2 linked regions of the Homo sapiens genome follow. The protein of the gene in region 1 interacts with the protein of each later gene in a pairwise test. Each region holds a gene or a part of one and is shown in the gene's direction. Other genes may lie near its edges. The genes, in order: ASB8 and CELF1.

Region 1 (3,820 bases):
CTGGTCTCGAACTCCTGACCTCAGGTGATCCACCCACCTCAGCCTTCCAAAGTGCTGGGATTACAGGTGTGAGCCACCACGCCCCACCTTTAACTCATTTTAAAATCTGCAAATTTTCCTAAAACTGAAAGTACATTTTATTATTCTGAATTTTAATTTTTTCCTAGTTTTATATAAATGACTCCAGGGTAGTTATACTTTTGCTTTCCTTACCTATTTTAGAATACTACCTCAAATATTTCCTTTTTTTTTTTTTTTTTTTTGAGATAGAGTCTCACTCTGTTGCCCAGGCTGGAGTGCGGTGGCCCGATCTCGGCTCACTGCAAGCTCTGCCTCCCAGGTTCACGCCATTCTCCTGCCCCAGCCTCCCAAGTAGTTGGGACTACAGGCGCCCACCACCACGTCCAGCTAATTTTTTTGTATTTTTTGTAGAGACGGGGTTTCACTGTGTTAGCCAAGATGGTCTGGATCTCCTGACCTTGTGATCCACCCATCTCGGCCTCCCAAAGTGCTGGGATTACAGGCATGAGCCACCACGCCCTGCCAAATATTTCCTTTTTTTCCTCTTCTGAACACATTTGAAAATGTTTCAGATAACTTTTCATTATTAAGATATATTTGCTCCATAGCCTTCTTCCTCTCTTTTCACACATAACAATCACTTCTATACTGTTTAGTCAGTCGACCAACCAATATTTGTTAAATACCTACCTTTTGTGAGATTCTGTGGCTGGCCTTACATGGGTGAAAAAGTAGAAGACAAAGTCCTTGCCTTCCAGTTGATTACAGTTTCGATGGAGAAACAATATGTACATAACTATATTGCAAGGCCCAGTGTTATAAATAACTTAATGGTGGTGCTGATCATAAAAACCACAAAAATTCAAAGAAGGAAAATAATGTTTTTTGACCTCTTCAGCCTTTTAAAAATCCTATTCCTTGCCTAGTCGTTTGTAAACCACACAGAGCTCCACGGGGGTCTTAGTACCTCTTGGGGAAATCTCGTGCTAGACTAGGTTAGAGTAGAACATTTGTGTCCAGGTTTATCCAACTCCCTAGGCAACTATTATAATCCAATTCCTTATGATTATGGAAATAGTATTAATCACTCCTTGAAATCTGCTTTTAGCATTGGGAAGGCCTCAGAGAAGACCTAACCCTAAAGACAGGTGTGCTCAGTGATATTGTATATGCCGAAAACTTCTTTGTTTCAGGCAGTTTGGAGCATGTGAACACCTTGAGCCTTGATGAGTTCCAGTATGTGGTATATTATGCAGAGCATTCAGAGCAAATACTCTCTCTCCGAGCGCTTAATCCGAACAATTGCTGCCATCCGTTCCTTCCCACATGATAATGTAGAGGACCTCATCAGAGGGGTGAGTGTGCTGGTATTGACAGGAGAGTCCTTGCGATATGAAGTGGGCAAAATCCTCATGGATCACAGATTTGCAGCTTTGACTCAACCCAAGATCACAGGGAGTTTTTACATTTTGCTAACTGCATTAACTTGATCATTAAAATGTATTTCCCCTATGTTTGCTTCGCTTCCCTTCTCCCTTTCACTTTGTGTATCTGATATTTTTCTTCATGGAATATGTTCTCAATAACCCTAGTCTCATGTTCTTTGTAAAATATCTGAGTACGATGCATATGTAATCCATTGAGCTCAAAGTCTTCTATACATGTTTTATTAAGGGAGGAGGTGAGCAAAGCAGAGGTGGTTTTTATTTTTATTTGTTGAGACAGGGCTTCACTTTTGTCACCCAGGCTGGAGTGCAGTGGCACAAACATGGCTTACTGCAGCCTTGACCTCCTGGGCTCAAGCGATCCTCCCACCTCAGCCCCCTCAAGTAGCTGGGACTACAGGCACATGCCACCCATGTCCAGCTAATTTTTTTTTTTTTAATTTTTTGTAGAGATGGTGTTTCACCATGTTTCCCAGGCTGGTCTTGAATTCTCATGCTCAAGCAACCCACCTGCCTTGGGTTCCCAAAGTCGTGGGATTAGAGGTGTAAGCCACTGTGCCTGGCTACAGAGGTGGTTTTTAAATCCTTGTGAGCCTTTCTTCATACCTGGGTTACAATAATTACATGGAGAGATTTTTTACTTACATTCTATGTTAAAAGCAGCTACCACTTCTAGCTCTGTAGAGGATATCAACCTCTAAAATGCATGGTAATTATAGTTTAAGAAAACACCTTAACCATCGGATGTTTAATCATGGCCCTTCAATAATTGTTATGTGACTAGTATCCTAGAAGGTCTTTACTATCCTCTTCTATTTATTTTTCTTGTTGAAGAGAAGTTACACAGTTTTTGATCACCAGAAAATGCATCCAGATGGTTACTTGTGTATATTCTAAGACTTCAGGCTCGTCATTTACAGCCTAGATCTCTGTAGCTGCTTCAGAGTTATTGGACACAACTGAAGAAGGAAAAGTCATGCAGTGTTAGCTTATTGTCAGCAAAAGTAGTGTCAGGAGACTCCGCGGTAGAAACCTTGTAACATTCTAATTCTAGCTCTGCTGCTGAGTCATTCAGTGACTTTGGTCTGACTGGTATCTCCATCTCCCTTGATTTTTTTTTTTTTTTTGAGACGGAGTTTCGCTCGTCGCCCAGGCTGGAGTGCAATGGCGCGATCTTGGCTCACTGCAACCTCCGCCTCCCAGGTTCAAGCGATTCTCCTGCCTCAGCCTCCCGAGTAGCGGGGATTACAGATGCCCGCCACCACACCCAGCTAGTTTTTGTATTTTCAGTAGAGACCGGGTTTCACCATGTCGGCCAGGATGGTCTCAAACTTCTGACCTCAGGTGATCTGCCCACCTCAGCCTCCCAAAGTGCTGGGATTACAGGTGTGAGCCACTGTACTCGGCCTCTCCTTTGATTTTGAATAGAAGCACCAGCAAAGGCTAGATGGTAAAGAATACTGATACTAAGAGGCTACTTTGAAGATGTTTATAAAAAAGGAAAAACCGTGTTAAGATGATGCCACTATTAATGATGGTCATTTGTTGAATGGACAAAAGAGCATGCCATTTCTGGCCTCAGTCTGACAGACTCACTTTCCTACTTTTCCAGAGCATGGTGGCCATAGAAAGTGGATTGCTGGTCCAGCTTTCCTGCCTGATGATAAGGTTTCCAGTGCTTTGATACATAAGATTGTCTTCAGTGATGTCCAGGTGACCATCTGGCAGCCTCCCTTGTGGAGAAACTTAGTAACTTGATCTAAGGAATTAACAGTTCCTTTCCTTCATCTTCAGTGTACTCCTTTGGTTTGGACATTGACATAATATTAATAGAAAAGGAAACAGGAACTAGCACTGTATCTATAAAATAGTGAGAGTTAGAACTCTCTGTCCCCTGGACTCAGTTCTGAATTCTGTCCTGCTGGGCAAGCCAGAGCTGAACACACTGACTGAAGTTGTCTTCTGCCCACAGGGAGCAGATGTGAACTGCACTCATGGCACACTGAAGCCCTTGCACTGTGCCTGTATGGTGTCAGATGCTGACTGTGTGGAGTTACTTCTGGAAAAAGGAGCCGAGGTAATGTTTTTAACACATTCACATTAATGACTCACTAAAACTTGAGCTTCATGTTTTCTTAGAATTTCTCCCCATCACTCCTCCATCTCTTCCCTCCTCCAGTCTGAACTTCTAACTCAAGGTAATGTTGGCATAGCCAATATTAAGGAAAATGTAATGGTAAATATATAAAATGATCTAAGGATTTCATTCTTTTACCTTTCTGTCCCCACCCTGCTTGCCCCCATTGTATGGTGCTGATACTCTGCCTTTCTTTCTTCTCCTTAACTTAAGCTGT
Region 2 (3,820 bases), on another chromosome or scaffold:
ATTCTCTGCTTTCCAAAGTTTGATTTTATGAAATCTTATTTATTGCAGGGTGCTGTTTTGTTACATTTTACACCCGTAAAGCTGCATTAGAAGCTCAGAATGCTCTTCACAACATGAAAGTCCTCCCAGGGGTAAGAAAGCTCCCACTAGTAAATGGAAATGTGGTAACTTTGATATGTGGGATATACTTACACATATCAGACACACACTGAAAACCATTTTGGGGAAAAGGTAACTGCTGCAGGAATTGATGTAAAGGAAGACATAAAGGGAGCAGTTCAGAGATTACCTGACATTAGTTCTCTCTCAGTCAAGAGTCTTGTGTATTTTGACTTCTTGACTCACATTCTGTTTTCTGGGGAAAGATCATGAAGCAGACATGAGTTCAGAGAGAACTCTTTAAAGCTCTAGTTCTGGTATTTTAGAGTCCATATGTATTTTTGAATACCATCAATATATACAGTGATAATAATCATATTTTTCCTTTTCAGATGCATCACCCTATACAGATGAAACCTGCTGACAGTGAGAAGAACAATGGTAAGCAAATGTATACAATCTTCCCCTTAAGATTTCTGCCTAGGCCAGGCACGGTGGCTCACACCTGTAATCCCAGCACTTTGGGAGGCCAAGACAGATGGATTGCTTGAGGCCGGAGTTCGAGCCAGTCTGGCCAACATGGTGAAACCCCGTCTCTACTAAAAATACAAACATTAGCTGGGTATGGTTGTGCATGCCTGTAATCCCAGCTACTCAGGAGGCTGAGGCATGAGAATCTCTTGAACCCGGGAGGCGGAGGTTGCAATGAGCTAAGATCATGCCAGTGTACTCCCGCCCAGGCAACAGAGTGAGACTCTGTCTCAAAAAAAAAAAAGATTTCTGCCTAGTTTGTTTGCTGTTCTTAGGTTATCTGAATTGAATTGTGCTTTAAGTAATCCGTTGTCTAAGTTGTCTCAGTTTTTTCTTTAAAAGTATGATGAAGAACAGAGCTGACAGAGAAATATTATAAGAACATTGTAGAATGAACTGGAATATACTTGGTCAGTATAATTTCTTTTGGACAGGAATGAGGGGGCAAAATGAACAAATTAGGAAGGAGAACTTAATTCTCGAATTTTTTTTTTTTTTTGAGATGGAGTCTCACTCTGTTGCCTGGGCGGGAGTACACTGGCATGATCTTAGCTCATTGCAACCTCCGCCTCCCGGGTTCACTGCATTCTCCTGCCTCAGCCTCCCGAGTAGCTGGGACTACAGGTGCCTGCCACCACGCCCGGCTAATTTTTTGTATTTTTAGTAGAGACGGGGTTTCACTGTGTTAGCCAGGATGGTCTCGATCTCCTGACCTTGTGATCCGCCCGCCTCGGCCTCCCAAAGTGCTGGGATTACAGGCGTGAGCCACCACGCCTGGCCTTAATTCTCAAGAAGATAGTCAGGACCAGGTGAGGTGGCTCATGCTTGTAATCCCAGCACTTTGGGAGCGCACGGCGGGCGGATCACCCGGCCAACATGGTGAAACCCTGTCTCTACTAAAAATACAAAAATTAGCTGAGTGTGGTGGTGCATGCCTGTAATCCCAGCTACTCAGGAGGCTGAGACAGGAGAATCGCTTGGACCCAGGAGACGGTGGTTGCAGTATGCTGAGATCGTGCCACTGCACTCCAGCCTGGGTGACAGAGCAAGACTCTGTCTCAAAAAAAAAAAAAATTCAGAAAAGTAGACAGTTACATTCACTGAAAGGTGTATTCTCTTCCACTTGTCATATCAAGTGTGAAAACCTCTTCTTTCTTTAGTAGTATTGCCAGTAAGAGCAAACAATGCTGGCTGGGCACAGTGGCGCACACCTGTAATCACAGCACTTTAAGAGGCTGAGGCCGGAGGATTGCGTAAGCCCAGGAGTTTGAGACCAGCCTTGGCAATAAGAGTGAAACCTCTCTGCAAAAAATTAGCTGGGTGTGGTGGTACATACCTGTGGTCCCAGCTATTCGGGAAGCTGAGGTGGGAAGATTGCTTAAACCCGGCAGGTCAAGGCTGTAGTGAGCCATGATCATGCCACCGCACTTCAGCCTGGGTGACAGCGAGACTCTTGTCTCAAAAAGAGGAAACAATACAAAGGACTAGGGAAGATGCCAAGTACTTCACATTTAATAGCAACTGCTACCCTTTGAAGTAAACCTGATTATTCCTATTAGTTAGATGAGGAAACAGGCACAGAATGGTTGAGTAACTTTCACAAGATTACAAAGCTACCATATTTCATCTAAATGCTTCTAATTATAATTTTAAGATAACATTGGTTATAAAAAGAGACGTGAAGCCGGGCGTGGTGGGTCACACCTGTAATCCCAGCACTTTGGGAGGCCGAGGCGGGTGGATCACCTGAGGTCGAGAGTTCAAGAACAGCCTGACCAACATGGAGAAACCCCATCTCTACTAAAAATACAAAATTAGCCAGGCATTTTGGCGCATGCCTGTAATCCCAGCTACTCAGGAGGCTGAGGCAGGAGAATCACTTGAATCCGGGAGGCGGAGCTTGCGGTGAGCCGAGATCGCGCCATTACACTCCAGCCTGGGCAACAAGAGCGAAACTCCATCTCAAAAACAAGAAAAAAAGAGATGTGAAAAATACAAAAAACAAATGTGTGTCTTTGAATCTGTAAAATATGGTACAGAGCCAGGATTCAAACCCAGGCGGTCTGGCTCCCAAATCTGTGCCACATTGCCTCTTTAAGTAGTAATATTCAAGTCTTTTCTGTTTTACTCTCTTAGCAGTGGAAGACAGGAAGCTGTTTATTGGTATGATTTCCAAGAAGTGCACTGAAAATGACATCCGAGTCATGTTCTCTTCGTTTGGACAGATTGAAGAATGCCGGATATTGCGGGGACCTGATGGCCTGAGCCGAGGTAGGTAGTTTTAGCTTTTAAATAATCTTTTGGTTTTTTGTTTTGGTTTGGTTTGGGGTTTTTTTTTTTTTGGAGACAAGGTCTTGCTCTCTCTCACCCAGGCTGGAGTGCAGTGGTGCCTTCACAACTCACTGCAGCCTGAACCTCCCAGGATCAGCCTCCTGAGTAGCTGGGACCACAGGCATGCATCATGACACCCAGCTAATTTTTAAATTTTTTATAGAGAAAAGGTCTCCCTGTGTTGCCCAGGCTGGTCTTGAACTCCTGGACTCAAACGATCCTGTCATCTTGGCCTCCCAAAGTGCCAGGATTGTAGGTGTGAGCCACTGCACCGGGCTTGGAATCTTTTTAATTTGACCGGTGGAAACTAGCAACAGTGATTCCCTAGCCAATATGGCCCAGTCAAGATAAAGAGGTTGGGCCTGCTGCTTCCTGCTGTATATCTATGTCCTGTCTTGACTCCTCCTATCAGTTCATTCTTTTTGTCTCCCAGCCCCTCTAAGGAGTCTACATTCTATATTTCATTGTCATGTATTAAAATTTTCTCTTTTGGTGCTTTGCAAGATCCTTGATGCCAAAATGGAAATACTTTCTTCTTCCATTTTCTTTTATTTTCAAGAGGAACTAGAGGATATGAGTCCTCCTTTCTCCTGTCAAGCATTTTTTTTTTCTGTCAGTGGTTCTGTTTTTTCATTATAGCACATATCACCCTGTTGCAACATACCAGCACATGATTCCCTGAAAACAGGGACTGTGTCTGTATTGCTAGCATGATAGTCAGCACATAGTAGGTGCTCAGTTAATGTTTGTCAGAGAAATAAATGAATGCATGAGTTACTGACTCTTCTCTTACCAGGTTGTGCATTTGTGACTTTTACAACAAGAGCCATGGCACAGACGGCTATCAAGGCAATGCACC

What was found.
Region 2: the proteins of ASB8 (region 1) and CELF1 interact in a two-hybrid assay, tested with the Homo sapiens proteins (one large-scale study listed by IntAct).

The regions. Positions count from the first base shown.
Region 1 is NC_000012.12:48,150,924-48,154,743, reverse strand, and holds part of ASB8 (ankyrin repeat and SOCS box protein 8), read left to right. Parts: intron 1-1,214; 5' UTR 1,215-1,247; coding exon 1,248-1,376; intron 1,377-3,078; exon of another isoform or gene 3,079-3,179; intron 3,180-3,438; coding exon 3,439-3,543; intron 3,544-3,820. UniProt on the Homo sapiens protein: May be a substrate-recognition component of a SCF-like ECS (Elongin-Cullin-SOCS-box protein) E3 ubiquitin-protein ligase complex which mediates the ubiquitination and subsequent proteasomal degradation of target proteins.
Region 2 is NC_000011.10:47,483,470-47,487,289, reverse strand, and holds part of CELF1 (CUGBP Elav-like family member 1), read left to right. Parts: intron 1-48; coding exon 49-131; intron 132-491; coding exon 492-540; intron 541-2,766; coding exon 2,767-2,901; intron 2,902-3,757; coding exon 3,758-3,820. UniProt on the Homo sapiens protein: RNA-binding protein implicated in the regulation of several post-transcriptional events. Involved in pre-mRNA alternative splicing, mRNA translation and stability.